Homo sapiens: one gene and its partners. The protein of the gene in region 2 interacts with the protein of the main gene of each other region in a pairwise test. Each region holds a gene or a part of one and is shown on either strand. Other genes may lie near its edges.

The links.
Region 1: the proteins of NCR3LG1 (region 2) and TSPO interact in binary tests that used the Homo sapiens proteins (3 or more experiments, as listed by UniProt).
Region 3: the proteins of NCR3LG1 (region 2) and COL4A5 interact in binary tests that used the Homo sapiens proteins (3 or more experiments, as listed by UniProt).
Region 4: the proteins of NCR3LG1 (region 2) and TMEM222 interact in binary tests that used the Homo sapiens proteins (3 or more experiments, as listed by UniProt).

The regions. Positions count from the first base shown.
Region 1 is NC_000022.11:43,153,861-43,162,213, reverse strand, and holds part of TSPO (translocator protein), read right to left. Parts: exon of another isoform or gene 6,276-8,353; intron 3,005-6,275; 5' UTR 2,976-3,004; coding exon 2,794-2,975; intron 1,163-2,793; coding exon 1,024-1,162; intron 1-1,023. UniProt on the Homo sapiens protein: Can bind protoporphyrin IX and may play a role in the transport of porphyrins and heme. Promotes the transport of cholesterol across mitochondrial membranes and may play a role in lipid metabolism, but its precise physiological role is controversial.
Region 2 is NC_000011.10:17,368,800-17,375,799, forward strand, and holds part of NCR3LG1 (natural cytotoxicity triggering receptor 3 ligand 1 precursor), read left to right. Parts: intron 1-67; coding exon 68-165; intron 166-3,206; coding exon 3,207-3,713; 3' UTR 3,714-7,000. UniProt on the Homo sapiens protein: Triggers NCR3-dependent natural killer cell activation.
Region 3 is NC_000023.11:108,442,197-108,450,549, reverse strand, and holds part of COL4A5 (collagen alpha-5(IV) chain isoform 2 precursor), read right to left. Parts: intron 1-8,353. UniProt on the Homo sapiens protein: Type IV collagen is the major structural component of glomerular basement membranes (GBM), forming a 'chicken-wire' meshwork together with laminins, proteoglycans and entactin/nidogen.
Region 4 is NC_000001.11:27,317,326-27,325,689, reverse strand, and holds the start of TMEM222 (transmembrane protein 222), read right to left. Parts: upstream 3,528-8,364; 5' UTR 3,493-3,527; coding exon 3,299-3,492; intron 1,817-3,298; exon of another isoform or gene 1-1,816.

The DNA of each region.
Region 1 (8,353 bases), on a different chromosome or scaffold from region 2:
GGAGACGGAGGTTGCAGTGAGCTGAGATCACGCCACTGCACTCCAGCCTGGGCAACAGAGCGAGACTCCGTCTCAAAAAAAAAAAAATACAGAAAATTAGCTGGACATGGTGCTGCATGCCTGTAATCCCAGCTACTCGGGAGGCTGAGACAGGAGAATCACTTGAACCTGGGAGGTGGAGTCTGCAGTGAGCCGAGATCATGCCACTGCACTCCAGCCTGGGCAACAGAGTAAGACTCTGTCTCAAAAAAAAAAGGCTGCCGGGCACAGTGACGTGACCTGGAGTCCCAGCTACTCAAGAGGTAAAGGCGGGAGAATCAATCGTTTGAGCCCAGGAAGTCGAGTCTGCCCTGGGCAACACAGCGAGTCTTCATCTCTTAAAAAAGTTTAAAACTTTAAAAAAGAAGCAGTCAGCCGGGCGCGGTGGCTTACACCTGTAATCCCAGCACTTTGAGAGGCCAAGGCGGGTAGATCACCTGAGGTCAGGAGTTCAAGACCAGCCTGGCCAACATAGTGAAACCCCATCTCTACTAAAAAAATACAAATACAAATACAAAAATTAGCCAGGAGTGGTGGTGCACACCTGTAGTCCCAGCTACTCGGGAGGCTGAGGCAAGGGAATCACTTGAACCCAGGAGGTGGAGGTTGCAGTGGGCCGAGATCTCACCACTGCACTCCAGCCTGGGTGAGAGAGTGAGACTCTGTCTCAAAAAAAAAAAAGAAGAAGCTGTTATGTAGAGGGGCCAGTGACCCTGCCCACACAGTACCAGGCTTCGTGTGGGTTTTCCTACACAGTGGCCCCCAAACCCACCCCTGCAACCCCTTCTGCTTTAATAGCTTCCCTCACCGGAGGAGTCAGTAGAGGGGAGGCTCCAGGGTGTGGGCTGCTTACAGCTAGAGAGACATGGCCTTTTGTCTCCCCTGGCCCCGCCTATAGACACTGACCCAGTGTCATATGTGATGCCCCACGTCCTCCAAGGGTCGGATCCAGGGATCAGGGACACATGCTGTGGCCACACTTACCCAGCCCATTTGTCGGGCACCAAAGAAGATGGGGGGCCATGCCCAGTTCAGGGCCAGCTGCCCAGTGTAGAGGCCCAGGGGAACCACAGCCTTCTCTGTGAAGCCTCCCAGCTCTTTCCAGACCAGGTAGGAGCCGTACCTGAAACAGAGGCCGCAGTTCAGAGCACCATTAGGAACAAGGCCAGGAGCGTTGCCCACCTCCGAGTGGCACAGTGATGGTTCATACGTGACCTGACACTGACTGCTGTGTGATCTCAGGGAAGTTGCTTGACCTGTCTGGGCCTTCATTTTTCATAGGGTTGCTGTAGAGATTCTAGTTAGCACATTGGCAGTGCTTCATGCGATACCCAGCATTTAGGACACTCAGTAAATACCTGCCATTATTATCACTGTCACTGCTATGAAAGGGAAGCACATGGTGTGAATAGGTAGAGAGGAGGCTCTTAACCTAGCCAGGGCACTGCATAGAGGATGGGACATTTGGCCTGGGCCTTAAATGATGAATAGGAGTTTTCCAGGGGAGGAAACAGGACATGCAAAGGCTTTGAGGCAGATGTGAGACCCTGAGTCAGTCTGTGACTGCAGGGTGAGGTCCAGGGGGAGGCCTGATCATGGGAGCTGTTAACACAGGGCAACGATAACACCACCAGTAACAGCAGCCGATGCCCTCCAGCACTCACAGGAGCCAGGCCCTACCACTTCCCAAGCATTCACTCATTTCAGTCTCATGATGATGCCATAAGGCAGGCAGTATCAGCACCCCCTTTACAGTGAGGAGACTGAGGCGGTGAAGTGACTGAGATCTCTTGGCAGGCCATCAGTGGATAAAGTCTGGTCAGCCAGGGCCAGAGCCCCGGCTGTCACCTACTAATGAGGGGTTCGCCTTATCCAGAGCCACAGGGAGCCCCAAAATTTCCCCCGAAGAGAGGCTGGGACTGGGTGGTGTAGGAAGGCCAAGCAGGGTGGGGACACTGGAGCCAGGGAAGTGCAGGACCCTGGCTGGGCAGGGCCTGGGCCAGGAGGGGTGAGGCCCACGTGACACCCAAGTTCCAGGGCCTTATTCCCATCAGAGCCGGGCACCTGGCCTGGCCTCTGCTATCCGCCCCCTAGAGTGCCTGGCACCTGCGTCCCCACCCTGCACTGCGCTGGCACAGAACCAGGATGCAGGGAACATTTCAGAAGGCAGTCAATTCCCTGCCTCCTGGGTGTGGTCCCCGCTACAGCCACCAAGAGGCGCCCTGCCCCTCCCAGCACGTCCTTTCCGGGTGGAATTCCCCTGGTCTATTCCCAGGGGACTCAGGCCAGACTGAGCCTGAAGGGGCTGTGGGGGGTCCACACTTGCAAGCCCTGTGTCCTTGGGAGGCCTCTTATTATGGGGGTCGTTGAGTATGAATGAGACGAGCCTGGCACTGGGCAGGCGTTCAACAAAGGAGCTGCTCTTGGGGCTGTTGCTGCCGTTGTTAATCTTAGCGTCCATGCCTCTGCCCAAGACCAACCTTCACACACTAAGCCGGCCTCTGCCTGGAGCTGTGAACATGGCGGGGATGCCAGGGTGGGGTGAGCATCTGACCCATCCCCCCAGGGGCCCAGGAGGAGAAAGTTCAGTTGTGCAATCGACAGGCCCACAGCTTCCCCACCCTGGCTTGCCAAATGGGGCTGGGGAAACCATGCCATGGTCCATGGCCCGCCTGGAGAAGACCCTCTGTCCTGGGCCAGGCCTCCCCTTGCAAAGGGCCAGGCTTATCCCCAGGCCAGTGCACGCCCACCTACCCCATGGCTGAGTAGAGCGTGCCCCAGACAGGGCCCAGCACCCAGTGGGGCGGGTGCCACGAGGGCTTCTGCAGGCCGGCGTACCAGCGGAGACCCTCGCCGTGGACAAAGCGGGAGCCCACGAAGCACCCCAGGCTGGGCGCCAGCGTGAAGCCCATGGCGGGCACCCAGGGCGGGGCCATGGCTGCTGCAGCTGCTGTTCAGGGGAGCTCTGAAAGAGAAGACAGGGCTGGGTGAGGGCATTCCTGAGGCCATGGGGTCAGGCCCGTGTCTCCTCCAGCATCCCCGAAAGGCCTGTCACCCACAGATCAACCAGTCAGCTGATCAGGAGGCGCAGAGATGTGCGGGGTGGGAGTGGCTGAGTGAACGCATTTCCAGCCTTGCTCCTGCCCCAGCTGCCTCGCCTCACCTTTGCCCACCCTCACCTCGACCTTGGGTCTCTGGCACTGACCCCTCCTCTCTTCCAAGGCCAGTTTGGGTCCCCTCCACCAAGAAGCCTTCCCAGCCTGCCTCCCTGGGTCAAGTCCCCGTCCTGGGAGCTCTGCCAGGCCAGTGCTTTACGTTCCAGCACTTCACATTCACCTTTCACTCACTCACTCACTCACTCATTCATTTGGTGACTGGTATCAGACAGAGTTTGGGTCTAATCCCCTTCCTCACTGCCTCACTGTGACCTCAGGCAAATCACATCAACTCAGGGCCTCAGTTTCCCCCTCGGTAGAGTGGGATATCAATGCTCACCTACCTTGAGCACAGCTCAGTGCACAGCAGCAAGGAAGGTCTCTACACAGCTGTTTCAGCACCCCACACGGGCCCCAGTAAAACCACCGCCCCTTCCCCATGCACCGGAGACAGAGAGCAGCCTGCCTGGGGCCACACTGCACTCTGGCCCAGGCTCTGCCCTGGTGGCAATATGGCTCCCACCCTGACCTCATCCAAAAACAAAGGGCTAAGCTCCCACTCACTCTGATTCTAGGTGGAGAATCAGGAGTCGTCTGCTCTTGTCTGAGACAAGAAGCCACACAACCCGATTCAGTTCTGCCAACTTGCAGCAAGGCCTGCTGGGGCGAGGGCTAGGACCCAGGGGGGCACAGGGCTGGGGAGGCCCTGAGTGGGCACAGACTGGTGCTGAGGGAGCCTGGACCTCAGAAAGGGACCCTCTGACCAGGGACCAGGGAGGAGATGCCACAGGAAGAATACTGAGCACTTTCGTCCCAGGGGAACACGAGAGACAAGCAGTCCAGGGGACATGGAGGCAGCCAAGCGGGGGTAGAGGGGTGTCAGCAGAGACTGTGCTGAACTTGGGCTTTGGCAGGGGCAAAGGGCAAAGGGCAAATCTGGCCCCAGGGAGAAGGGGCGGCTGCTGGCCTGGGATCCATGGAGCTGGGTGAGCACAGAAGCAACCTCAGTGCCCAGCAGCCAGGGACTATTAAAGACTGGCCCCCCACAAACCAAGCTTCTGAAGGCTTTCTAGTAACGAGAAAGTTGTTCTCAACATAACACGAAGAAAGCAGAATATAACATTGACTACAGAATGACCCCAATTTTGGCAAAAAATGGATAACATAGATATGCGCTTTTTTTGAGACAGAGTCTTGCTCTGTTGCCCAGGGTGGAATACAATGGCGCGATCTCAGCTCACTGTAACCTCTGCCTCCCAGGTTCAGGGGATTCTCCCGTCTCAGCCTCCTGCCTCCCAAGTAGCTGGGATTACCAGCATGTGCCACCATGCCGGGCTAATTTTTGTATTGTTAGTAGAGACAGGGTTTCACCATGTTGGCCGGGCTGGTCTCAAACTCCTGACCTGAGTTGATCTGCCTGCCTCAGCCTCCCAAAGTGCTGGGATTACAGGCGTGAGCCACCGCGCCCGGCACGTTTTAAAGGAACAGAGTGTCAGGCATCCAGCAGATTCCGGTGCTGCCACTTACTATGATTCCCTCCCCTCCCTGGACCTCAGTTTTCTCGCCTGTTGAATGGGGACAGTTACCCCATCCCCCAAGGTCGCTGCAAAAATGAGCAGTAAGGATGGACATTCTGGGGGGGTGGGCATGTGACCTATGTCCCGGCAAGAAACGTTCCTGTGTTCTCCCTCCCGCTCCCTCCTGCCCCGCCCCTCCCTCCTGCCCCGCCCCGCCCTCCTGCCCCGCCCTCCAGCTTCCAGGGTACACGTGCTCATGGGGTGGGGATGGGGGTCTGATGTCACTACACATATGAAAGGCCACCCTCCCTGGGGCAGGAGGTACTGCTGAGCACTGGCCCTGCACCACCGCCAAGTGGATATGGAGCTCTGGACCACAGCCCTGGGACCACCTCCCAGCTCAGCCTCCCACTACATCCTCTCAGGTAAGCCCAGGCCAGCTCAGCCTACTGCTCATCTGGGCAACCAAGACATAACCGCTGCTCTGCTGGAGCCTGCGTGAGTCCACAGCTGAGTGACATTGTGGGGGAACCATAAGGAGCCTCGTTCAGCCTCCACTGGAAACGAGCCGGACCAGGGTGCCTGTACGTGCCTTTTCCCAGGACACCCTCAGTTGAGGCCCACCTGCCCCACACTAATGGCCTGCTCTCACTCACAGGTGTCCCTGTCCAGGCGAGCAAGGTTAATACCACCAGCATAAGACACGTGGACATCCCGAACCCCTTGATACGACATGGAAGCTGGTGCGCTTTCAGTGATGTTCATGCCACAAATGGAAACCCCCAGTGCAGGCGTGAGCCACCGTGCCCAGCCTAAAATTAACCGTTTTAAAGTGCACCATTCAGCAGCATTTGTATATTCCCAATGTTGTGCAACCACCCTCTGTATCAAGTTCCAAAGCATTTTCAACCCCTAAAAGAAACCCCGTATCCATCAGCAGTGGTTCCCCTCCCCCTCCCTCCCACCCCTGGCCGCCAGCAATCTGACTTCTCTCTGGGGACTTGCCCATCCTGGACATTTGGTATCAATGGAATCACGCAGTGTGTGGCCCTCGTGTCTGGCTTCCTTCACTGAGCGCCATGTTCTAGAGGTCCTCACCTTGTAGCACGTGGCAGAACTCCCCACGATTCTGTCACCTGGCTCCAGCACCCAGCCAGGGCCAGGCACACACTCGGTCCCCAGGAAATCACAATGGGACTCACCCAGTGTTCCCACTGACAGGGCCTTAGAGACCACCATCCAGGTCCCCCGTTGTATGGAACGAATAAAAGTCACAGAGGCATGGTGGCTTTCCCAAGGCCACAGCAAGAGAGCAGGGTCTGAAGCCAGTTCTGAGTCCCGTGCTCACACTCCCACCCCAGGCTGCCCCCTTCTCAGGCCTGGCTGTGGTTATGACCCACAGGGCCAAGGGGCTCAGAGGGTCTGCCCCACCAGAAAACAGGCGGTCAGATGCCCCACAAGGAGAAAGCCTGGTCGGGGGCGGGGAGTTTCCTAGGGCCTCTGGGGAACTGCCCAGCTCCTGAATTGCCCAAATGGGGAACAGGTGGGCAGGGGCGGTACCCACCATGATGAGTCATGCTGAGCCAGGCTAGGCAGGATCCAGATATCTGCTCTGGGATGAGTCCAGGGAAAGCTGGGGTGGGCCAGGCCAGGGGGCACACATGGCAGGGACAGGACTCAGGCTCAGGCAGAGGGGTGAAGCCACCTATACACCCTTTATTTGTCTCCTTCAGAAAGCGAATCGGGATCCAGACCTCGGCTCTGCCTCCATCCAAGGCTCGTCTCTGGGCCTGGCTTCCTCCAACGTCAGGTGGGTAAACCCGCTGTGTCTGCTTCTTGGGGGGCTGGGGTAGCTCAAGGGAGGAAGGGGTGGGACAACAACGTTTCCCTGAAAACTCCAGAGAAGAGAGGGGTTGTGGGTATCAGTGTGGGGCCACTAGCCCCATTTCCTCCAGGGGAAGACAGGGCCTCAAGGCTTGGACCTGTGACGAGACCTTATCAGCCACGAGAGCCCCTGGACACTCCACAGGTGAAAATGCCCTGCACGGAGCAGCGCCCCCAAAACAGGGGCAAGATCGGGGCAGGGTAGAGGGCGCAGGACGTAGAGGCAGGAGAAGGTTCCAAGCCTTGCTCAGCTCTGGTTGTGCACAGGCCTCTGGTAGGCAGGGGCCTGCGTGGTGGAGTCCGTGCTCATCCCGACGGTCACCGCCTTGTTCAGTCCCCACAGCAGCCACAGGGGACCAGCTGCTTCTCCCTGAGCCACACGGCCCACTCGGCCTCCATGGTGGACTCGTGACTGGTCCCATTTTCCAGATGAGGAAACTGAGACATGAGAAGTCACAGAACTTTCTAGGTCCGAGTGACTCCAAAACCCACCCCACCCCTCCCTTTGAGCTGGGTGTCTGCCGGGCTGCTCTGGGCCGCGTGACCACTTGCCAGGAGTTGTGTCACCGCCCGTCTCAGCCTCCTTCCTCATCTGAAACAGGGCTCATAGAGCCTGCGGCGCCAGGATTGGACCCGCAGGCCACTCCACCCCACCTCTGAACGGTGCCAGAAGGTTCTCTCAGGGCCAGTAGCATCACTCTCTCCACCTGCCGCGGCAACATCCCAGCCCCCACAGAGCATCGGGCCCTGCAGAATCTGAGCCCTTCCCCACTGAGGGTGGGACCCAGGGTCTCCAGGTCTTGTGAGGCTTCACTCCTGGCCCGAAGACCCCAGACCCATCGCTGCCCCAAGGTATCTCATCTCCTGAGCCTCTGTGTCCCCATCTATGAGGTGGTGGTCGAGCCAGTGGGTTTCAGGGTGTCTTTCTGTTCTTGGAGACCTCCCTATAGGTGACCCAGAAGGCCAGGAACGGTGGCTCACACCTGTAATCTCAGCACTTTGGGAGGCTGAGGCAGGCAGATCACCTCAGGTCAGGAGTTCGAGACCAGCCTGGCCAACATGGTGAGACCCCGTCTCTACTAAAAATAAAAAACTAGCCTGGTGTGGTGGCGCACGTCTGTAATCCCAGCTACTCAGAAGGCTAAGGCAAGAGAATTGCTTGAACCCGAGAGGAGGAGGTTGCAGTGAGCCAAGATTACGCCACTGCACTCCAGCCTGGGCAACAGAGCAAGACTCTGTCTCAAAATAAATAAATAAATAAATAAAGCAAACAAAAAAAAAGAAGGCGACCCAGAAACACAATAAGGAATGTGTCCCTTCTCTGATCCCCACCCCGACCCCCAGCTGCACCCACTCCCCTGAGCCTTGTCTCTCCAACGAAGCCAGCACTGTCCCAGGGACTTGTTTTCAGGCTTTTTAAAAATGATTCATGGCTAATCGTCCTCATCGTAACCTTTGTGTGCATTTTTCATTACAAAAGTAACCAGTGAAACAGCCCACAGGTCTGGAAAAATCCACAGCGAACCTGGCCATCGAGTGGCCTGGGAGAGGGTAGGGTGAGGGTGGGGTATCCAGGGGGAATTGGTTCTGTTAAGAAAGACTACTTCCCTTTCCTTCGAGGTTCGGGGGTTAAACTTTTTTTTAGTAAAAAATAAAGAAACAGCCTGGCCGACATGGTGAAACCCATCTCTACTAAAAATATAAAAATTAGCCAGGCTGAGGCAGGAGAATCACTTCAACTCTGGAGGCGGAGGTTGC
Region 2 (7,000 bases):
CAGTTGTGTGGTTTCTCTGGCCCTTGCCAGTAGGTTTCCTGCTAATGTTTTCCTTCTCTCTCTGCAGAAACTGAGAAGACAGATAATTTTTCCATTCATTGGTGGCCTATTTCATTCATTGGTGTTGGACTGGTTTTATTAATTGTTTTGATTCCTTGGAAAAAGGTAAGGGGCTCCAAAGCAAAGTTCAGCCCTGTGTCTTGGGCTAGTAAAAAGCTTTTAGAGCAGCTGCTGCCAACCTTACAAGCCTCAAGGGACAGGCCTGCTGGAAAGGACTTTGTCAGTCCCTCTTCACCATCAGGTGTTGGGAATGTTGGCTGTGTTCCAATCCAGTTTCCTATCACAGAGGACCTAGCTGTCACATACCATCTGACCTCTGTATGGTGGTTTGTGACTCTGGGGTGATGTGTTGTAAAGCCTCCCTCTCTTTCTCCATACTAAACAAGTATTATATCTCTGTGAATGAACCAGACTTTAGTGTTCAGACCAGGCCCTGAACTATGTGTGGACTGCTTGTTTTTCTCACACATTTAGAAACTATGGCTTAGAGAGGGGAATTCCTCATATTTTATCTGATCAATAACTGACCACCAGATCTCACTAGTTTGACTAAGAATTTCTAACCCTCACTAGGTATTTCTAAACTAAAACATGTTTCTAAACATTTTTATCCCTGACTATGGCCCAAATAGTAAATAAAACAGCTCAAGCTTTAGAGGCCCAAGAGACCTATGTAAATGTGTTGGTTAAAATAGTTTTAGATAATAAAAGGGCCCTCAATTATTTATGGGCCTGTCAAGGCAAAATCTGCACAACAGCCAGTACATCTCATTATAAATAATTTAGGAGAAGTGGAATAATCAGTCAATTAAGAAAAATGGCCCTTTATCTAAAGTTGGCCATTTAGATTCACGGGACTTATTCCTGTTGGATCTAGGCCATGAGAAAACTGGATAAAAAGTGGTTTTCAAATGTTTCTTGTGGTATTTGTGACTGTTGTCATATTTCTTGCCTTTCTCTGGTTCTGATATTCAGGTGCTATTGAGAGAGGAGGAAGGAAGAAACTAGTCAGGCAGGCAGTTAGGGTGGGCCCTCAGTCAAATTCCTTCAAACAAAAGAACAGCCTGAAAAATCAAACTGCAGATAAGGGAACTTGTACAGGGGGGCTTGCCTAAAACATGCCCACAGCCACATACATTAAAACAAGGCTACACAGGAGACTTGCCTAGACATGCTCACAATAGAAAATTCCATCCCCTGACACATGCACAGTAAGGGGAACAAAGCCACATGGAGTAACTCAAGCTAAGGGCTTGCATGCACACTACGAGGATGGGGTGGAGCTACCAGAAATGTGTGCCTTATGCCTTTGTATTCAGCTGTGAAATGGCAACCCTCTTTTGGGCCCCCTCTCTGCAGTGGAGTGCTTTCTTCTTTTGCTTATTAAACTTTCACTTCAACTTCATCTTTGGGGTCCGCGCTCCTTAATTTTCTTGGTCATGAGACAAAGAACTTCAGGTGATACCTTGGGCAATGAGAGACTGCTACATTGTGGTGCATTGACGAGACTAACATTTTGGTGCATTGGCCAGGAAACATTGGAAGGGTGAGTAGGAGCGGACCTCCAAACTCTTTACTTTCATTTCAGAGGCTTCTTGTCCTCAGATTTTTTCCTGAAGACTGAACAAAACACTGGGCCAGTTAAAAGCTTTTAGAGCGGCTGCCAACCTTATGAGACTTAAGATACAGGCTTGCTGGAGAGGACTTTGTCAGTCCCCCTTCACCCTCAGGTGTTGGGAATGTTGGCTCTGTTCTAATCCAGTTTCCTTTCACAGAGGACTTAGCTGTCACATGGGCTAGAAGGAGGTCCTGGGGCAACTGAAGGTTTCTGTTTGAGGCTACTCCTCAGTGTTACCTGAAGGTCCCTGGACTAACTCCAGCCCCCGACAGCCCGTCAGAATGTTGGCACCAGGACTTCCAGACTTTTCTATTGCATTTTCTTCCTTGCTTTTCGCAGCTACTATGTCTCCTATTCCTTCTTTGTATGCAATGTTGTGGGTGTCTTTATAGCCTGGGGAGATAATCCTGTTAAGCAAAGTCAGCAAGTGCCTTAGTAACGAGGAATGTAACTCAAATAATTGTTGTTTTTGTGATTTCCTTGAGACAGGGGGACTTCAAGATTTCAGCCTAAATTTTCACTTAGGGCCTTTTTGTCCCCCAGTGATAGACATTCATGGCACTCTATAGGGGGATGTTTCACCCCAAGTGAATACCCTTTTCTCCATCAGGTTGTTTTTCCTTCATGTAAGAGCTCAGCATTGCCCAATGAATTTAAGCATTCCCTCTATGAGACAAACTAGTTTTTTTTCTACTGGACAGCATATTATGGGGACAGCCTATTAAGCCCCAAACCTCCCTTTCTGACCTCTGCTTGGAAAGAATTTGTAGTCAGAGTTTTTTCCTAACATTTCAAACCCTATAGTGCTACCTAGTGGGATGGGATTTTTCTCTGTGAGAAGCCTTGTCAGCCCTTTGCCCAAAACCTCTAGTTCCCTGATTCCTTTCTCTCTTATGTCCCTCTTTCAGTGATCAGGCCCCATGCCCTATTTGTAAGCATAAAAACTCCTCTTTCAACAGCCAGGAAGAAGCTACCCTGGGAAGACATATTTTAGCCTCAGTGTTATCCCCATTGGAGGGAGAACAGCCATTCAATTTTTACATTCTTTTGAGGCATCTGTTCTGTACACAGCTACACTGGCATCTAAGTGAGAAAGGGATCTTGTGTTTAGAAATCAATCAGTCTCATTCTCTAGGAATTCATAACTTTGCCAGGGTGGTAGTAAGAGGATGTAAGGATAGAGTTAAGATGTTCCCTTCCTTAAAGGGTCTTGCCCCAATCCAACTACTGCACAATCTCTCCCATGGTTCTAGGGAATCTCAGGAGCCTTATGGGCCAAGTAGGTCTAGGAAACCAGCAGGGCAGAGAGCTAGGACCTTGTGCAGGTGAGCACAAGCTAGCTCCTCCGGATTCATGGGTGAAGGTCATGCTTTGATCCATGGGCAGCACCTATAATGGTCACCAGGAACCTGAGGAAATGGGAGGGAAGAGGAGAAGGGGGACGCCCCTTCCATTTTTCTCTCTGCTGTCGATCACTCCAGAAGGACAAAGGAGACTAAGGGATGCCTTTTCTCTCCTCTTTTTCTAGATATGTAACAAATCATCTTCAGCCTATACTCCTCTCAAGTGCATTCTGAAACACTGGAACTCCTTTGACACTCAGACTCTGAAGAAAGAGCACCTCATATTCTTTTGCACTCGGGCATGGCCGTCTTACCAGCTGCAGGATGGGGAGGCTTGGCCTCCTGAGGGAAGTGTTAATATTAATACTATTCAACAACTAGATGTTTTCTGCAGACAGGAGGGCAAATGGTCCGAGGTTCCTTATGTGCAAGCCTTCTTTGCCTTGCGAGACAACCCAGATCTTTGTCAGTGTTGTAGAATTGACCCTGCTCTCCTAACAGTTACATCAGGCAAGTCCATAGATGATAATTCCACAAAGTCTGAGAAACAAACCCCTAGGGAACACTCGGATGCAGTTCCGGATGCCCCAATCCTTCCTGTCTCCCCTATCTGGGAACCTCCTCCAGCCACAACATCAACAACTCCAGTTCTATCCTCCCAACCCCCAACTTTACTGTTACCCCTACAGTAAATGCCTGATGGACCTGGTGCCACTAGGGTCCAAGTTCCCTTTTCATTACAGGACCTTGGGCAAATAAGAGGGGACCTGGGCAAGTTCTCTGATGACCTGATAGATATATAGAGGCTTTCCAAAACCTAACTCAGGTGTTTGACCTTACTTGGGGTGATGTTATGTTGCTCTTAAACTCTTAACTACTACAGAGAAACAGGTAGCCCTGCAGGCAGCAGAAAAATTCAGAGATGAACAACATGTCTTCTATAGCCACTCAATAAGGAAAGAAGGTGAGAAACAACCAGCATTCACATACCCAATAGGAAGCGAGGCAGTGCCCCTTGAACAACATAATTCGGACCCCAGTGGTACCTTAGATGAGTGGCAAAGAAAACATTTTCAAATGTGCTTATTAGAGGGCCTACAGAGGACCAGAGCCAAGCCTCTTAATTACCCCAAACTCTCCATGATAGATCAAAAACTAGATGAAAATCCCTCAGCCTTTTTGGAAAGGCTGAGAGAGGCTGTAGTGAAACACACTTCCTTGTCTCCTGTTAGGTATGTTTATACCTCACATAAATAATTCAATTGAGGGACAGCTAATTTTGAAAGACAAGTTTATTACTCAGACAGCCCCTGATATCAGAAGGAAGCTAGAGAAACAGGCCATGGGATTAGATAGCACCTTACAAAACCTCCTGAAGGTAGCCACCTCGGTCTTTTATAATAGGGACCAGGAGGAGGCCCAGGGGAAGGAGAGGAAACACAAGAAAAAGGCAGAGACTCTGGTGGCCACTTTGTATAAAACCCAGTATCCCCAAGGTACACCTGCTAGTTGCTACCAATGTGGCAAACTAGGGCACTTCAAAAGGGACTGCCCAGGCAGCAAGAAGAAGCCACCTCAACCCTGTCCAGTATACAATGGGGACCACTGGAAGGCAGACTGTCCTGGGAAGCATAGGTCACTGAGTCCAGAGCCAGTCTCACAAATGGTCCAGCAGGACTGATGGGTCCTGGGGCTCAACTCCCTGGCTCCAGTGGCTCAGACTGCTGTTACTACCCGGGAGCACCAGGTGATTCTGGAGTTCGAAGGGAGGAAGGTAGACTTCTTTCTGGACACTGGAGCCAGGCTTCTGTTTTCCTCTCCAATTCAGGCCTTCGTTCCTCCCATAGCACAACCATGATGGGCATCTCAGGAAAGACTTTAACTTGATATTTTTCTCAACCTATTAGTTGCAGTCAGAGGGACCTACTGTTTACACAGGCCTTTTTAGTCATGCCTGAAAGTCCCACTCCTTTATTAGATAGAGATATTCCAGCACGTATGGGGGCCACCATCCTTATGGCTCCAGGACAAACTCCGCCTCCCCTTAGTGGAAACCAGTATTAACCCAGAGGTTTGGGCAACTCAGGGAAGAAGTGGCCGGACTATAACCACTATACCAGTCTGGATCCACCTCAAGGATCCCACTTTTTTTCCTAACCAGAGACAATACCCTCTGAAGCCAGAAAGTAGAAAAGGGCTAGACGCCAGCATTGATAACCTAAAGGCACAAGGCCTCCTTAGGCCTTGCAGTAGCCCTTGAAACACCCCAATATTAGGGGTGCAAAAATCCAATGGGGAAGGGAGACTAGTTCAGGACCTCTGCCTTATTCATGAGGCTGTGATTACGATTCATCCAGTAGATCCCAGTCCCTATACTTTGCTAACTCAAATATCCAAGGGAACTAAATGGTTCACAGTTCTGGGCCTAAAGGATGCCTTTTTCTGTATACCTTTATACCCTGACTCCCAATACTTGTTTACCTTTGAAGACCCCTCCAATCAAACCACCCAGTTAACCTGGACTGTACTGCCTCAGGGATTTAGAGATAGCCCCCACCTATTTGGGCAAGTATTGTCAAGAGATCTCTTCGAATTCTTCCATTCTCAGGTTAAAGTTTTACAATATGTAGATGACATTCTCCTCTGTGCCCCAACTGAGGAAGTTTCTTGAGACGGCACTGAGGCTCTCCTTAATTTCCTAGCTGGAAAGGGATATAAGGCTTCAAAATCTAAGGCTCAGCTCTATCAGACTTTGGTAAAGTACCTAGGTCTGGTCTTGTCAGAAGGGAACAAGAGCACTAGGCGAGGAGAGGATTAATCCCATTTCCTCCCTTCCTCTCCCCAGAACCCTCAAGCAGCTGAGGGATGCTTGGGCATTACAGGTTTTTGTAGGTTATAGATACCCAGGTATGATAAAATAGGTTGCCCTTTATATCACCTTATAAAAGAAATTCAAGTGGCTAAAACTCACTTCCTGACCTGGGAACCTGAAGGTCAAAAGGCCATTAATCAGTTAAAACAAGCCTTGCTTAAAGCACCAGCCCCCAGTCTTTCTGTAGGGAAGTCCTTTAATCTTTATGTATCATAAAGGAAAGGAATGACCCTGGGAGTTTTAATTCAAGTTCAAGGCCCAGCTCAACAGCCAGTAGGTTACTTAAGTAGAGAGCTTGACTTGGAGGCTAAAGGATGGCCAGCTTGCCTCTGAGCAGTTACAGTAGTGGCCCTGCTAGTCCCAGAGGCCACCAAGTTAACCCTGGGGAATAACCTGTTTATGCCTCACATAAATAATGTGGCAGGCTTGCTGTCCTCTAAAGCGAGTCTCTGGCTAACAGACAGCTGCCTCCTCAAGTATCAGACTTTGCTGCTAGAGGAATCTGCAGTCCAGTTAAAAACCTGACCTTGCCTGATCCCAGACACTTTCCTCCCAGAGGAAACTGGAGAAACTGAACATAATTGTGAACAGACTGTAGTACAACCTATGCCGCTAGGGAGGATCTCAAAGAAATTCCCCTAGAAAATCCAGACTGGACCCACTTTATGGATGGGAGCTCTTTTGTAGGACAGGGAGTCTGAAAAGTGGGATATGCAGTAGTCACCCTAAATAACATTGAAAATGTGCCTCTCTCACCAGGCACACACACTCAATCAGTTGAGCTGATCCCTCTCACAAGAGCACTTGAACTAAGCAAAGGAAAGACAGCTAACATTTATACTGACTCCAAGTGTACCTTTCTAGTTCTCCTTGCCCATGCTGCCATCTGAAAGGAAAGGCACTTCCTCACCGCTAATGGGTCTTGCATTAAATACCATCAAGACATCAACAGGCTATTATCCTCAGTGTTCCTCCCATGAGAATTAGTGGTCAGACATTGCAGAGGGCATCAGAAGCGGGTAGATGAAATAGCGAAAGGAAACAGGCTAGCAGACCAAAGAGCTAAGTCAGCAGTAAGAAGGCCCCAAGGTCCCAAAACACTTGAGG
Region 3 (8,353 bases), on a different chromosome or scaffold from region 2:
GAAAAGCTCAAATTTTTCATTGGCCACAAATACTGCCAGTAGTTTTCCCTGAAGTGGTAGGCTAATTCTACTCATTTTCAAGAAAATGCCCGCCAAATACCCAAGTATAAATAACCACAGTTTGTCTCAGTTGTTTTTCAAGTAAAAATGAATTTTGGCTGGGCTTGGTGGCTCATGCCTGTAATCCCAGCTCTTTGGGGGGCTGAAGCAGGAGGACCTCTTGAGGCCAGGAGTTCAAGACCAGCTGGGGCAACACAGCAAGACCCTGTATCTAAAACAAACAAAAAAGCGTTCCATGCAAAAATCAACTGGTTCAGCTCGTAACTCAAACAATTGCACAAGTGCTTTTCCTAGAAACAACTATCTTACTTCAGCGTACATAAGTGCTTTGTGTATACTTCCAATTTTGTCATATGTAATATTAAAAAGACATACACTCAAGGGTCAAAATTCAATTAATATAAATTAATGCTACATTGAGGACCCTCTGAGGTAAAACTGGCTTTCTCCCCCCTGAGAGTATGACGAATACAACTACTAAGAAAATGTGGTACACTGCACCAGTAATTTTACTCACCATCAGTGCAAATGTCAACATAGTGAGAAAAGTAAACATTCTTCGTATTTGCTATGATACATGTTTATGTCCCCTCCAAAAAAATTCATATGTTTTAAAATTATAATCTTCAAGGTGATGGCATTAGGAGGTGGGGCCTTTGGGAGATGATTATGTCACGGGGAGAAGCCCTCATGAATGAGATTAGTGCCCTTGTAAAAGACGCTCCAGAGAAAAAAACGCCTTTCCCCTTTCACCATGTGAGGTCACAGAGAGACCATAACATCTGTGAACCAGAAAGAGGGCCCTCACCAGACACTGAATCTTAGGTTTGATCTGCCTTGATCTTAGGCTTCTCAGCTTTCAGAACAATGAGATATAATTTGTTGTTTATATGCCACCCAGCCTGAGGTATTTTGTTATGGCAGCCCAAACAGACTAAGATAATATTACTGTTAAAATATTCCTCATGTTCTCTAATAGGATTTCAGGAACCGTAGGGGTCCACAGACCACAGTTTGAGAACTACTGACCTAAAAGATCACTAATGTCCCTCCAGCTCTAAAATGCCTATGAACAGTCAACAACTTTCATTTGTAGAACTATACAAAACATTCGTTTCCCTAGATAAGTAATATATCACATTTAACAAATACACCAGTTTCTTACAAATCTTTTGTATCAACTGATCCTGAGGACAAACTCATGAGGTTGTGAAATAGAAACTGTTTCTTCCTTCCCCCCAAAACATCATGAGTTTATTTACATATTTTCCACCCTCCAACTTTTCTAGGTAGCAATGTGTTTTGGCCAGACGCAGGGCAGGGAGAGGTGGTTGTGTGAGTGACTGGACTAACTCTACGTTTATGTCCGTATACCACTTGCCAATGTACTGGTGTAGGCATATACATATAACACGATTTCAACCAATGATAAATAAGAGGTGTTTTCAGGGTGGTGCTGTGGGACTCCTTAGAAAGTTTCCATTGCTAGTAAAAAGAGATACACATGAATAGTTCATACTCTCTTTCTAGTGGGCATTGCAGTGTCTGCATGTGATTCCTGGAACTGCAGCAGCCATCTTGAGAGTATGAGGGGCACTAATATTAGAGGGCAAGTTGATAGGCAGAGTATGGCAGTACAGAAAAATGGAACAAACTCTGGCCCTTACTAGTGTCATTATTTGGCTGAATTAATTAACTTTGGAGATAATCAACCTCCAAACTTCTTGTTATGTGAGCTAAAAATTGTTTTTATTGTTTAAGACAGATAGTGTTTTTTAGCACTTGCAAGAAAAACAACCTATCTAATATAAACAGACACCACCATGACTATCTTCCACATACAGAAACATTTTACTACATCAATTAAATTGTGAGAATATGGACAGAGAAGGACCAGTCCTCCTTTAGCAAGCTTTTGGAGGGCTTGTAAACACAGAATATACTAAATAATTCATCAGTCATGTCCCACTCCTAATACCACTGCCCCTCTCAAAGTTCCATATCTCTTTCAGTACTCAATTAATGTCATATACACTGTAAGAAATTTTGAAAGCAAACCAGCCAGTTCTCCTATATACAGGAAAAATATTATTTGATTGAATTATAGCATGATACAAATTCCTTAACAGAATTTCTTGAAGTCTTATTTTATTACTGTCAAAAACACAATTCCATTAACCAGAATAGAACTTGCTTGTAAATGGTACTTACATTCTCTACAAGTTAGTAAGCATCTGACATTTATAACAGATTCATTAAAATAAAAAAGTTAAAAATTAAATTTAGCAAAAGCCTGTTTCTTTTATAACATTTGCCTTTGACTGTCTTTAATTAATGAAAAGCAAGGGATTTAAGGTTCCCATTTCAACAGGGTAGCAAGTACCATCATAGACTGCCCTTTTGGTTAAAGGCCAGCAGAAGCTGCTAAAGGCACAAAGTGTGGGTGGACCTGGACAGACTATGGAGGTAAATAAGTTCAAGTTGCATAAAATGAGAATCTGGTTTGTTAAAATGAAAGAAGCCTATGTGTCACATATCACACTGAAGGTGTTTCTCTAAAATCCTCAAGAATTACTGCTATTTAAAAACAAATCTTTATAATAAAGATTTAGCTAAGTGTCTGGGTGGTTCATTTATAATGTTAATTAGAAAGAATACATTTTCAAAAATTACTTCTGTTCCGTAGCTGCTATCATCACAAGGGGATGAGATGATGGAATGATTACATTTGTAAAAGAAAATCATTAGAGACTAAGACCAAATCAGCCAACCAACTGGCAATCAATTGAGCATCAATTCCATAGTCACTGTAGTAGATAGGAAAGAAAAATTAAGTCTGTCTCACAGGCACTCTTATACACTACTGATAGGAGTATAATTGGTAAAACCATTCTGGAAAGTAATTTGGCAAGAGCAGATCCCTATCACTCAGGAGCTTAAAGTTCAGCTATTCAAATGCCACCTGGAAAAACCACAATGCATAACAGTTTGTGACTTTGCAGAGAAATAAATTTCAATTGCGCAAGCTATAGGGCTGGCAAACAGGCAATGATGTCATTTGGCTACTGAGGAAATGTGAGGAGAAGGTAAAGTGAGTATGTTACAAATTGGGAGTGGTACAAAATGGATGGGGGACCTCACATTCCGTATGTACTAACCAGTTTAATTTTCTAAAAAGAGGGAATTGAGGCTGTGATATTATCTCCCCAAAGTGGAAAAAAAAGATTAAGAATTAATGAAGGGAAGTTTCTGAGTATCACTAAGGGAGAGATGAAAGCTAGGGACAATACTAGGTAAAGACACAGCCATTTAAGTGTAAGCCTGAAAGACAGCTACAGTGCAGGGGCTGGTGAGAGGGGTGGGGAAAGTGGTCAGAAGGGGCTCTCATTTCAGATGCATATGCACAAAACTCTTCTGGGGGAGGGAGAATGTCAATGAATTTGAGTATGTTATACCACTGTTATAGCTGGGAAGAGATCAGTAGGAGAGGTATTTGTGGAGGGCAAGCTCCACCTTCTGCCCAGGGGAGAAAAGTAGGAGGATATATTGTGCACAAAATTAAAATTTAAGCCCTTAAGGATGAACGGCCTAGGCAGTTATGGTAAAGACTTATTAAAAGATGAGCCAATGGAGAGTCTTTCTTCAGAATCATCTTAAGTGACCAGTCACAGAAGGGTTTACAGAAAGGGCAATGAGAATTATTCAACTTTTCATCATGACTTTACTTTTCTCTATTATCTACCATGTATGAAATAGGGATTGAGGAGAATCTCATGAGCAGGTTCTAGAGCCTTGGTTTAAATCTTGGCCCAATCATGTATCAACTGCACGACCTTTGGCAAGTTATTTAACCAATGTGGGCTTCTGATTCCTTGTATATAAAAGTGGAAATAACATTAGCTACCTAACAGGATATAACATAGTAACCACTAAAAAAGTTACCATAATTTCTCTGTTGATATAGCCTTTTTAAATATCAGGGTCTACTGTATGTATCAAAGACTTGAAAAATACTTATAGCGTTTAACCCACTAATTCCCCATGAAGGCGGCTGTAGCAATAAAATAATAAAAATATGGAATAAGAAATGTTCATGGCAGCACTTCTTACGATGGCTAACAAATCTTGACATTTTAAAATATACTCTACAAAAGTGAACAGGTAAATAAATTGGAGTGTGTATAAATACAAGTTGTATGTAATCATTTTAAAATAACGTTTTAAAACTAAGAATGTTAACATGGGAAACTGCTTGATAAGTGATCAAACAGTAAGAAATAAAACTATATGTAGAATAAGCCCAACTTACTTTTTTATTTTAACCAACTTTTTTTTTAGTTATTAGCTAGTGTTTATTTAATCAGGTTTTTTAGTATTTTAAAAATTCAGTATCTTCATGAAATGAAAACTTTACCATAGCAATTGAAACATGAATTGTGCTTAGAGTTTCGTGATTCACATCCAAACCTTAACATATCATTTACAATTCAAAAATTGTACTCTTACAAGTCATTGTTCTATGCCAAATTTATTTTTAAAAACATATTATATATATAGGAAAGAAAATAGTAAAAACAACAATAATCAAAACACACACCATTATTCTGTGCTCAGCCAGCACAGTTCTGGCCTGCTGGTAGAACTGTGGACATATTTTTATTTTCTTTATGTTTTTCAAGTTTCCAACATTGAGCAGCTGTTACTTTTGTTACCATATAAAATCAACATATGAATTGGTTGAATGAACAAATATATAGTTATTGCTTCAAAAGGGACTTTAATCAAATAAAAAGAACAGATAAAATGTCATAAAACAAAATGCCTATAAGACCAAATACATGCAGATACGAAACTGGGAGAGGCTAAATATTACAAATGTTCAAAGAAAGGTACAATCAGTATTTGATACTATAATAAGGGAAAGTTTCACAGGACTATTTAGCTATTCTCACCAGTATGTAAACACCATGAAGGGAAGAACCTTGTCTTTATTTGGTTTTAGCCATAGTGTCTAGCACAAAATGATTTTGTAGGCAGTACACCTCCATGAATAGAAATAGAACAGCATAAATAGAATTTTTGAGTACTTAGAAGTTGCTGAATAAATATCTGCTGAATAAATGTAAACATTTGCTGGAATTGAGCAAAGACTTGAATCCACAAAATTCTAATCAAGATGGAGGGCCAAAATGTGTATGCAGTGCTCACGGGATTGTAGGAAAGCTTACCTAGGCTAGACTGGAGGGAGTATATTATAAACTGTAATGAAAAATAAGGTTGGATAAGGGAAAAGATCATGATAGGCCTTGAAAATCAGACAGGAGATTTGAGAGTTGATGTAGTAAGAAATGGTAAGTCAATAAATATAATGACAATAATGAAATCTAAAATTGATTTAACATTTACTATGGTGTCAAATACTATATGTTTTACATAACTTTTCTCATTTCATCCTAAAAAAAAAAATATGTGAGATAGGTGCTACGGCCTTCCTTTTGCCAATGAGGAAATTAAGTCTCAAAGATTACTATTTTGCTGAAAGTTACACATCTACCAGTCAGATTCCATGTCTGACTTCAGAGGCCAACCTCTTGAAGACTCTGTATAAGACCTCTACAAAGTCCACAAAACGTGTGAAGAGAAATACCAGAAGAGAATGAGATCATGTATATTTATTCTAGGGTCTTGGACTGGAATCAGATGTATCATTATGAATCCATGATTTTGACATATATAAAGAGGGACTTCAAGAAATCGATATAGAAACAGGTATGTGTGCATATATACATATATTTCCTAGTTCTGCCTGCTGAGAGGGCCTAGAGGCAATGACACCTCAGTAGCAATAAGCATGCCAAGCACCCAGATCTTGGCTTCTACATACCATTCTCCAATAAAAAGAATCAGAGCTCCTTGGAGAAAAGATTCTGATTCCAGAGTTGGGGCAAGGAAATTAAAAAATGAGTCTGGAGGCCAGGTGCGGTGGCTCACGCCTGTAATCCCAGCACTTTGGGAGGCCAAGGCGGGTGGATCACGAGGTCAGGAGTTCGAGACCATCCTGGCTAACATGGTGAAACCCCGTCTCTACTAAAAATGCAAAAAATTAGCCCGGCATGGTGGCTGGCACCTGTAGTCCCAGCTACTTGGGAGGCTGAGGCAGGAGAATGGTGTGAACCCGGGAGGCAGAGCTTGCAGTGAGCCGAGATCATCGCGCCACTGCACTCTAGCCTGGGTGACAGAGCAAGACTCCATCTCAAAAAAAAAAAGAAAAAAAAAAGAGTCTGGAACATCTGTGGTGCCAGAAAGTAAGAGGGTGCTTAAAAAATGATGGAGACATGTTGAAAGGACACAGGAGCCAATTTGAAGGGGCTCCTGTTGGCCAAATCTGGGTTTCAGCAAAAACAAAAAGTAGTAAGAGCATAATTCATTATAACCTATAGAATAAAACAAATATTCATTAAGTCCATACTGCTATAAACAGCTGAATAAATATATACATTAAGCGTAAAGAGAAAGTTTTTTATTACAGTATAATTCAATCAATTAATAAATGTAAAAATGTTGAAAATTGAAATCAATGTCTGGCAAATGTCACAACAATAATTTATTCAAGCCAGAATCATCAACATATGCTAAAATTAGTGGGCAAATATATGATGAGAAACAGGATATTTACATTGTCTCACAATATTGCCCTGCATAGTCTCACTTTGTAATTACAAAAGAAAAAATAGTGACTTTATAGTGAATAAACCTAGCAGACACCATCTTAACCAAGCTTTCAGGGATGTAAAGAGTCTCATGTCTTACATGTATAGACATCAAAAGGTAAATAAAAACACATGAAAAAATACAAACTCTTACACTGCCATGGGACAGATACATATATAGATATATGCATAAGACTAAAGATATATATCTATATAGTTTGTGAATAAAATTGGATATGATAGGTAGGCAAATTAGTACAAAAAAAGAACAAAACTAAATTAAGCATGTTAAGTAAAGTGTGTTACCATACACACATACCCGGTTGTTTCACAATAGACATGCTCCTGAAAAGTTTGGTGGACTTAAAATTAATGCAGTAACTGAGTAATTAAATAATCATAAGGCAAATCTTCCTTCAAAACAAATCATCTGTCACAAATTATAGTAGTTATATAAGTTGAAATGTTTACATATTGTGATTACATAAAATCATAAAACCTTCAACAGCATTTGCTTTTAGATTGCTTTTAAATAATCTCACTCTAGATACAGATACAGAGGTCAAACTCTGATCTTTTTATTCTAGGCCCAAAGCTATTTCCATTACACCATGCTGCTTCTCCTAACATCAGCAGGAAGACATGTAACCCCCATTATCATTTCCATTTCACCTCCTGTGTCCAAAAAAAGTGGCAGAGATCCAAATACTTTACACACCAGTAAATCTCTATAGACCACATACAAAGTAGGCAGTATAGGACAGTCATTAAGGGCAAAGATTCTAGAGTCAAACTGCCTGGATTCAAATTTTCCAGCTTCACAAGTTACTGCCTACATGACTGGATTTCTGGGAATGTATTCAACGTCTGTAATTTGTAGTTTTCTCATCTGTAAAGTGAGGATAATAACGGTATATGTCTCATAAGTCTGTTCTGAAGATTAAATATGATAATATGTATTATCATATTAGCACAGTGCCTGGCACATAGTAAACACTCATTATGTTATCTACATTAATAATGATGACAATGATGACAAGTTTTTCCTATGGAGCAATATACTTCATAGAGGATGAAGTGTTTCATGGCTACAAACAACACTCCTACCCTTGATAAATTCGTGCCGCTGGTCACAAGGAAGATAGTACGTTTAAAGTAGACAAAAATATCCAATCTACTGCACAGAAAACAACTTACTAACTATGTAAAATAAAACTAACATAATTTTACATACTACCCACATCCACAAATCTAAGTGCATATCCCACTGACAGTGAATCAGTACAGGTATAATTACCTTCACATAAAAATGTTATTTCCATCACTAAAAATTATATTTCCAACTTAAAACTGTCTTCTCTTATTACTAACCTTTTGGCATAGAGGTTACTTTATTCCACCTAATGAATGCTCTACCTAAAAAAAAGATCTTCCACATATTTGTGATGTACCAATTTGGCATGATTTCAGAGATAAAGAAATCATTTACCTATAAAAGAGTAAAGCACTTTAAATAGCAACACTTTTTTGATATAAAAACCCCAATACTAAACTACTCCAGTCAAAGACTAGCCCTACCACCA
Region 4 (8,364 bases), on a different chromosome or scaffold from region 2:
TCCACACAGAGTACTTGCACTCTGGGGGCACAATGAGCTTGATCTTCATGGTGCTGGATGCCAGGGCGTTAATCTCCTTCTGCATCCTGTCGGTGATGCCCGGGTACATGGTGGTGCCTCTGGATAGCCCTATGTTGGTGTACAGGTCTTTGCGGATGTCTACGTCACACTTCATGATGGAGTTGAACGTGGTCTCGTGGATGCCGCAAGATTCCATACCCAGGAAGGAAGGCTGGAACAGCGCCTCCGGACACTGGAACCGCTTGTTGCTGATGGTGATGACCTGGCCATCCGGCAGCTTGTAGCTCTTCTCCAGGGAGGAGGATGTGGTAGTGGCCATCTCCTGCTCGAAGTCCAGGGAGACAAAAATATGGAACGCTTCACGAATCTGCATGTCATCCTTGCGCAGGGGCCATGCTAATCTTCTCTGTATCGTTCCAATTTTAGTATATGTGCTGCTGAGGCGAGCACTAAACTGGTTTTTCATGCAGAATTACCAACATCTCTGAGGGGGTAGACAGATCTTTGGGTTCCATTTCCTCCTCTGATCTCTCCTCCAAAGACAGGTGACAGTTACTTGCGCCACATCTATGCCTAGCTCTGCAATCATCACTATACAGTAATACTACGATGGCTAATTGACCTTTCTCTCCCTCCTGCTGGAGGTGAGTCCTTTGAAGGTGACATGGTTTGGATCTGTCCCCGCCAAATCTCCTGTCAAACTGTAGTCCCCATATTGGAGGTGGGGGCTGGTGGTGGGATCATGAGGCTGGTTTTCTCATAAATGGTTCAGCACCATCCCTTTGGTGCTGTTCTCGTGATAGTGAGTTTTCCCAAGATCTGGTTGTTTAAAAGTGTGTAGCATCTCCCCCCTCACTCCCTCTTGCTCCTAATCCCGCCATGTGAGATGCCTCCCTCCCCCTTTGCCTTACACCATAACTGGAAGCTTCCTGAGGTCTCCCCAGAAGCAGAAGCCACTATGCTTCCTGTATAGCCTGCAGAAGCATGGGTCAATTAAACCTCTTTTCTTTAGAAATTATCCAGTCTCAAGTATTAGTGCAAGAATGGACTAACACAGAAGGGAACATGAACCCTTTGACAGGAACACAGTGTCTTATTCATCTTGGTCTTATGAACACCTGTACACAGATCTGAATAGAAATGGGCTATGAGCTGCTTTTGGCCCAGGTGACAAGGGATTGTGGTGCCTCCACCTCACGCTGCTACCATTCTCCGCAGAGGACCACGCCACAGATGGTGTTTTTGAGAATAAGAAAGGCTAAAGAGAGTTTAGGATCACAAGACAGGTTTTAAGAAAACCAATACATTTCCTGAGTATCCCTCCCAGTTATTTTCTTTTTTTTTGAAACGGAGTTTTGCTCTTGTTGTCCAGGCTGGAGTGCAAAAGCACGATCTTGGCTCACCGCAACCTCCACCTCCCGGGTTCAAGTGATTCTCCTGCCTCGGCCTCCTGAGTAGCTGGGATTACAGGCATGTGCCACCACCCCGGCTAATTTTGTATTTTTAGTAGAGATGGGGTTTCTCCATGTTGGTCAGGCTTGTCTTGAACTCCTGACCTCAGGTGATTCGCCCGCCTGGGCCTCCCAAAGTGCTGGGATTACAGGCCTGAGCCACCACGCCCGGCCCCTGTTATTTTCACACTAATATTTTATTTTCTTCACAGCACTCATCACTATCAGGTGCTCTTTTATTAGCTTACTTGTTTACTGTCTATCTCCTTCCACTATGACTTAAACTCTCAAAAGTCTAAAGACCATATCTCCTTTATTCATCACTGTATATTCGCATCACCTAGAACTATCTGGGAACACAGGGGTCACTTAGCACATGTGTTAGAAGAACACTGAATGAATTAATGTGCACATTTTCCTAAGATTTTATTTCACTATTTATTTTGAGACGGAGTTTCACTGTGTTGCCCATGCTGAAGTGCAGTGGTGCAATCTCGGCTCACTGCAAACTCCACTTCCCGGGTTGAGGCGATTCTCCTGCCTCAGCTTCCAGAGTAGCTGGGATTACAGGCACGTGCCACTATGCCCAGCTAATTTTTGTATTTTTAGTAGAGACGGGTTTCGCCACGATGGCCAGGTTGGTCTCGAACTACCTACCGATCCACCCTCCACTGCCTCCCAGAGTGCTGGGATTACAGGCATGAGCCACCGCGCCTGTCCCAATATTTTATTTTTAAAGAACAGATTTGGATGCTCTTATATGCATAAGTACTTGAAAACACAAAATAATTCAAGTATTTTAACATAATTCAAAAACTACGATCTTTTTAGAATCAGCAACACCTAAGGCCCCAAATGATCCCTTCTCCACATCACCACTGGCTGTTATTGATAGCGGAACAAGCTATCCCATCAGGTGAGAGTGGATAAGATGTAGTGCAAAGAGCAAGTTAGATCAGAAGACTGAGCTCTTCATGCCTTTGCTTATTGGGGTGCGAACCTGATCAAGACACTTAATGCTACAAGCAGCTCAGCTTCACCATCTGAGAAGATAACCTACCTTAGAAAATGGATGTTTAATTCTGATAAAATGGGTGTTTAAGAGCTTGGCAAACTATCCAGCACGGTGAGGAGGGGTTACGTTTATCAGCTGTCAAGGTTGAAGCAGGAGGGCAAACCACCTCTCCCCATATGAGAGCTCCTCCCAAAAGGCGCCAAGTAGTACCAGAGCACCTGCTTCTCCCCTGACAAAGGCTGATGTTACAGAAAGAACTTTGGTCTGGGAGGCAGACAACCTGGGATCTAAACCCAGTTTGCAACTGAGATGGCACGTGAGACAAAGGGTTGGACTCTCAGATCTCTGGGGGCCCTTCCAATGTTGACATCCCAGGATCTCGTGTGGTCCCAACCAAACTCCCACTCTTGCTCCCAGACCCAGCAGTATGTCTGGAATATGGTAAGCGACCAGTAAGCATTTGCTCAATGAGAGAATAAACCAGTGAATTAATAAAAATGTCTCCTCAGATCCGATAAGGGGCTCCCTCTTCTACACACTCACAGCTCGAGTCTCCCAGCCACTTGCCCTTTCCTGCTGGCCTACAACTCTCTCCCTGGCTACACCAGGTGTATTGAGAGCAGGGAGCGTGTCCCAGCCGTGTGCACAAACTGGCACTACATGGATGGCGGGGTTCTGGTGACTGGGCGAGGCGTGCGGGCCAGACCCGAGGAAAAGGCTTGCTGCGCGTTGGGGCCGGAGGCTAGCCCGGCCCGACTCCGGCTCTCCCTGGGCCCTCCTCGTCCCCAGGCGGATGCCGGAAGAGACTCACGTGAGCACCGGGATGGGCGTCCACACCACGCAGTAGGGGAAGCGACTCCGTTCCACATCCATGGCGACGCCGCCGGAGCCTTGATATTGCTTCATGTCCGTCTCGGCCGCCGTCGGCGCCTCCACTTCCGCCATCCTGGGCGGGGGTGGCGGCGGCGGCAACAAGAGCAGAGAACTCCCTTCCGCTTCCGCCATGCGGCGCGCGCCCCGCTCCGACTGGCCCCGGCTCTGGTGCCGCTCGTCCCCATGGCGTCACTTCCCGGAGATGGGGTCCGCCCCGCTTGGCCTTCCCCCGGGAATCCGAGCCGCGTTCCTCTGGGCCCGGCCAGCCCCGCCCCACTCCCTATGCGCCTGCCAGCCCCGAGTCTTTGCCGCTTATGCCCCGCGGCTGCAGAAGGGATGCTCTCAGGCAGTTCGCAGTCTAGCGCCGGAGACTTATAGAGAACTCTAATTCAGTACGCTGAGGGCTCCTAGGAGGTGTGGTACAGTCGCTATTTATTGAGCACTTCTTAGGTGCCAAGCACTTGACATGAATTGTTTCTAATCCCCATAAACTAATTAGACATCCAAATTAGGTATTCCCTCCTGTTACAGGTGAGAAACTGAGGTTCAAAAGGTGAGAGACCACGATGCAAACCCAAGTCTTTTTTTTTTTTTTTTTTTCTGAGGCGGAATTTTTTCTCTTGTTGCCCAGGCTGGAGGGCAATGGCACAATCTCGGCTCACTGCAACCTCCACCTCCCAGGTTCAGGCGATCCTGCCTCGGCCTCCCGAGTAGCTGGGATAACAGGCGCGTGCCACCACGCCCGGCTAATTTTTGTATTTTTAGTAGAGGTGGCGTTTCACCATGTTAGCCAGGATGGTCTCAAACTCCTGACCCTGTGATCCGCCCGCCTTGGCCTCCCAAAGTGCTGGGATTACAGGCGTGAGCCACCGCGCCTGGCCCAAACCCAAGTCTTATACCTCCCTTGCCCTTTTCATTCTGTGGCCCTCTCACGAGGTAGTGGTAGCATAAAGGAAGACACACACAGTTGTGTGTGCGCACGTGTGTGTGTGTGTGTGTTTTATTGTATATACAGGGAAGACTTGCTGGAAGATAGGATATTATTGAGTTGAGTCTTGATGTTTGCCATGTGGCACAGGAGTGGAAGTATGAGTGCAGCGGTACAAAGAAAGGAAGGCCGTGCAGAGCAGTGTGTGCAAGAGTGTGAATACTTACTGGAGTAAATCATAAGCCTTAGATGTGATCCAATCCCTTCATTGTACAAATGGGAAAACGGGCTCAGGGAAGTTAATTGTTTGAGATCACACACAACCATAATTAGAGAGAAGCCAGGCTCAAATGTTGGAGACTTTTGGCTTTTTAAAGGATGTCAAGACAAAGAAAATGAAGTCTACTGGGGTCTACTGGGGTGGGGAGGGGAAGTTGGGGACAGCCCAAAGTCAGAAGGAAGGCTGCCACTAAAAATCAGCCTTAAAGAAAAAAAAAAAAGAATAAAAAGAGTAATCAGGTAAAGGAAGGTATGGACAAATGCACTCAGGAAGTTAGGAGCTTCCCATTTGGGGAAGGTCCTTCTTCCACTGAATTACCCTCCCTCAATGCTGATCTATGGAGAGCTTGCTGTCCTGTTTGTAGCACCTAATATTTTCATGTTTTTTTGTGGGGGATGTCTGTCTCTGCTATAGAACTCTAAGGTCCTTGACTTCAGTAGCTGGCACAGTTCCTGGTGCAAAGCATATGCCCACTAGATGTTTACTGATTTATTAGGTGATTGAATAAATGGATGTTTTATAAAGACCTCAGAGATTCGCAGGCATGATAATGATTACAGTGGGTTAGAAAATGATTCTAACCCACTCCAAATTCTTTGAGCACGTTTGTACCTCTCCTTGACCCCTGTGCAGTGTGTGATCCTTGAAGGGCAACAACCAGCATCCAGCACAGGGTTTGGAATAGATTAGGTGTGTAGTTTACAGTTGTTGAGAATAAATTACATGACTTCTTGATTCAATCACTGTAGTTATCTAATCTCTTCTGGACCACAGGCTGTGAGGAAGGTCTGTGCCTTAGACATCTCCCTACCATGACTGTCAGCCCATAATTCTAGCACAGGGTTGCTGGGTACCCTTTAAACATTTATTGTAGGTATTGATGAATAAACAACCAAAGTAAGTCTCTCAGGGCCTGCCACAAGTTTGGTAGTACTAATACACGTACCACATTTAATCTGCCAAACTTCAATGGCTTCCCGTTGCACTTCGTATGAAACACAAATATCTTACTATGGCTCACAAAGCCCTGCACCATCTGGACCCATGCCCCTTCCTTATTTACTATACTACAGCCATCCTGGCCTTTTCTTTCAGTTCCTCTCATGCACTCCTTCATATTCCAGGGACTTGGCACACACTGTTCCCCTCTGCCTGAAATACTACTCCTATCTACTTAAAGCGGCTAACTTTCATTCTTCCAGTCTCAGATCAAATATTACTTTCTCAGCCCATCCCTGGTCTCCCAATCTAAATGAGAAAGCCCCCATTAATCTCCTGTTCTTTTTCTTCATAGCTTCTTTGTAGCTATGTACTATTTGCCTCCCCCACTTGACTGGAAACTCTATTTGTCTTGCTAACGTGTGTATACCCAATGCCCAGTATAGTGCCTAGTGCATGGTATTTGTTTAATCAATATTTGTTAAATTGAATGAAAGGCAAATACTTACAGGCTTGGTATCACGTGCTGGTTACAGTCTAAACGCAGGAACCTGCTACCTCTTGGTGTCCCAAACCTTTTCAATGGGCTTGGGTTGGTGGGAACAGTGCTCAGGCAGAGGATCAGACCACAGAGCCCTGGCTCCTTTCCTAAGGTCCACGTCATCCTACCCTTGGCCTAGGCAGCTGCAGAAACGTGGCATGAGGAGGGCCGGGTACCTGGAGGTAGAAGCCAGATCCTCTGGTGCCTGTCCCACAGGCTTGCCCCGCACCACAACCCATCCACAAGATTTTTTTTTTTTTTTTTTTTTTTTTTTGAGACAGAGTCTCACTCTGTCACCAGGCTGGAGTGCAGTGGCACAATCTTGGTTCACTGCAACCTTTGCCTCCTGGGTTCAAGCAATTCTCCTGCCTCAGCCTCCCCGAGTAGCTGGGACTACAGGTGCGCAACACCACACCCAGCTAATTTTTGTATTTTTAGCAGAGATGGGGTTTCACCATGTTTGGCCAGGATGGTCTTGATCTTTTGACCTTGTGATCCACCTGCGTCAGCCTCCCAAAGTGCTGGGATTACAGGCATAAGCCACCGTGCCCGGCCTTTTTTTTTTTTTTTTTTTTTTAAATAATGGATTCATCCCTGCAGAACACTCCTTCTCACATATACACCTTGGTTCTCTCACCCAATTGTAAGAGTCTCTCTGGCCTGTGCCCTGGACTCCTCTGCTGTTGCTTCCTTATCACCCATAAACAGATGGGAAATCTCCATCAAAGACTAATATTTCCTTCCAGGCTCACAGGATCACAGCAGGGTCCTGGAGGAAGCTCCTGTTATGGCTGAGCTTGGGACAGGATTGATAGGTTTCAGAGCTATCCCTCCCCCAACACACACCCCAACCTAAAATAGGAATGACCATCTGGATCCACTTATGGGTTTGGCTGGGGGAGGGAAGGATGCCAGAGCTGAAACTGTCAAGCTGGGAAACCTTTGAGGGTAAGATGCTGCTTGTTTGAAGGGTGAGCTTGGGGCATTTCCTCTCTTGGTGGGAGTCAGCGCACCCCCTCAATTGGCCCCATGTATAAGTCCCCAGGACTCACAAATCTCCTCTTTCAGGATATCTCGCTCCTGGCATTCAAGGCCCCTCATGATGCCCTCAAATTTTCCTTCCAGCCTCATTTCTCACAGTCTCCTTCGGGACTTGCCTGGAGTTAGCCTCACTGGCCTGTTTGCCCTTCACAGAACAAGTCCTGCACTTCATACCCTGTGTGTTGGCTCACACCATTCCCTCATCGGGGATGTCCTTCCTTTCCTCTTCTACACTACTTTCAAGGTTTCAGGCAAATGCTCCCTCTTTGCTCCCAGAGCACGAAGGCTGTGTTTCCACCTATTGAATATTCATGTGTACTTGCATTAGCATTAGCTGTTTACATGTCTGTCGCTCCCAAGAGACTGTGAACTCCTTGAGAAGGGGACTAACTGGATCTATTGGTCCCTGTATCCAACTAGGCAACTGGCAGAGAGGAAGTGCTCAGGTAATGTCACTGGAGTTATTTGTTGACTGTAGATGTCTCCTTAAGGGCTCTGGGGAAGAATCACCTCAATCCAGGGAAAGAGCCTGAGCCAGGGGCATGCTGCAGTATATGCAGCATGTGGGAGGACAGCGTACTCTCTTCTGCTCAGCTTCATCATTGCCCTCTCTGGCCCCTGGAAGCTGGGCCTCTTTCCATTATGACTCCAAACCTTCCCATGGTGGGGAGGAGATTAAGGGGACCAACTCAGTGCAATAAACTATTTCAGAGCAAACCCACTGGTCCTTTAGACATCAGAGTTCACAAAACGACTTCCTTTTCCATTCCATTTTTTTGTTTTATTTGGAAATGGAGTCTCCCTTTGTCACCCTGGCTGGAGTGCAGTGGGGCCATCTCGGGTCACTGCAACCTCTGCCTCACGGGTTCAAGTGATTCTCCTGCCTCAGCCTTCTTAGTAAGCTGGGATTACAGGTGCACACCACCACGCCCAGCTAATTTTTTTTTTTTTTTTTTTGAGATGGAGTCTTGCTCTGTTGCCCAGGCTGGAATGCAGTGGCACTATCTCAGCTCTCTGCAACTTCTGCCTCCCAGGTTTAAGTGATTCTCCTGCCTCAGCCTCCTGAGTAGCTGGGACTATAGGTGTGCACCACCATGCCTACAGATTTTTGTATTTTTCGTAGAGACTGGGTTTCACTGTGTTAGCCAGACTGGTCTTGAACCCCTGACCTCAGGTGATCCACCCACCTTGGCCTCCTGAAGTGCTGGGATTACAGGCGTGAGTCACCGCGCCCAGCCCCAGCTAATTTTTGTATTTTTACTAGAGTCGGGGTTT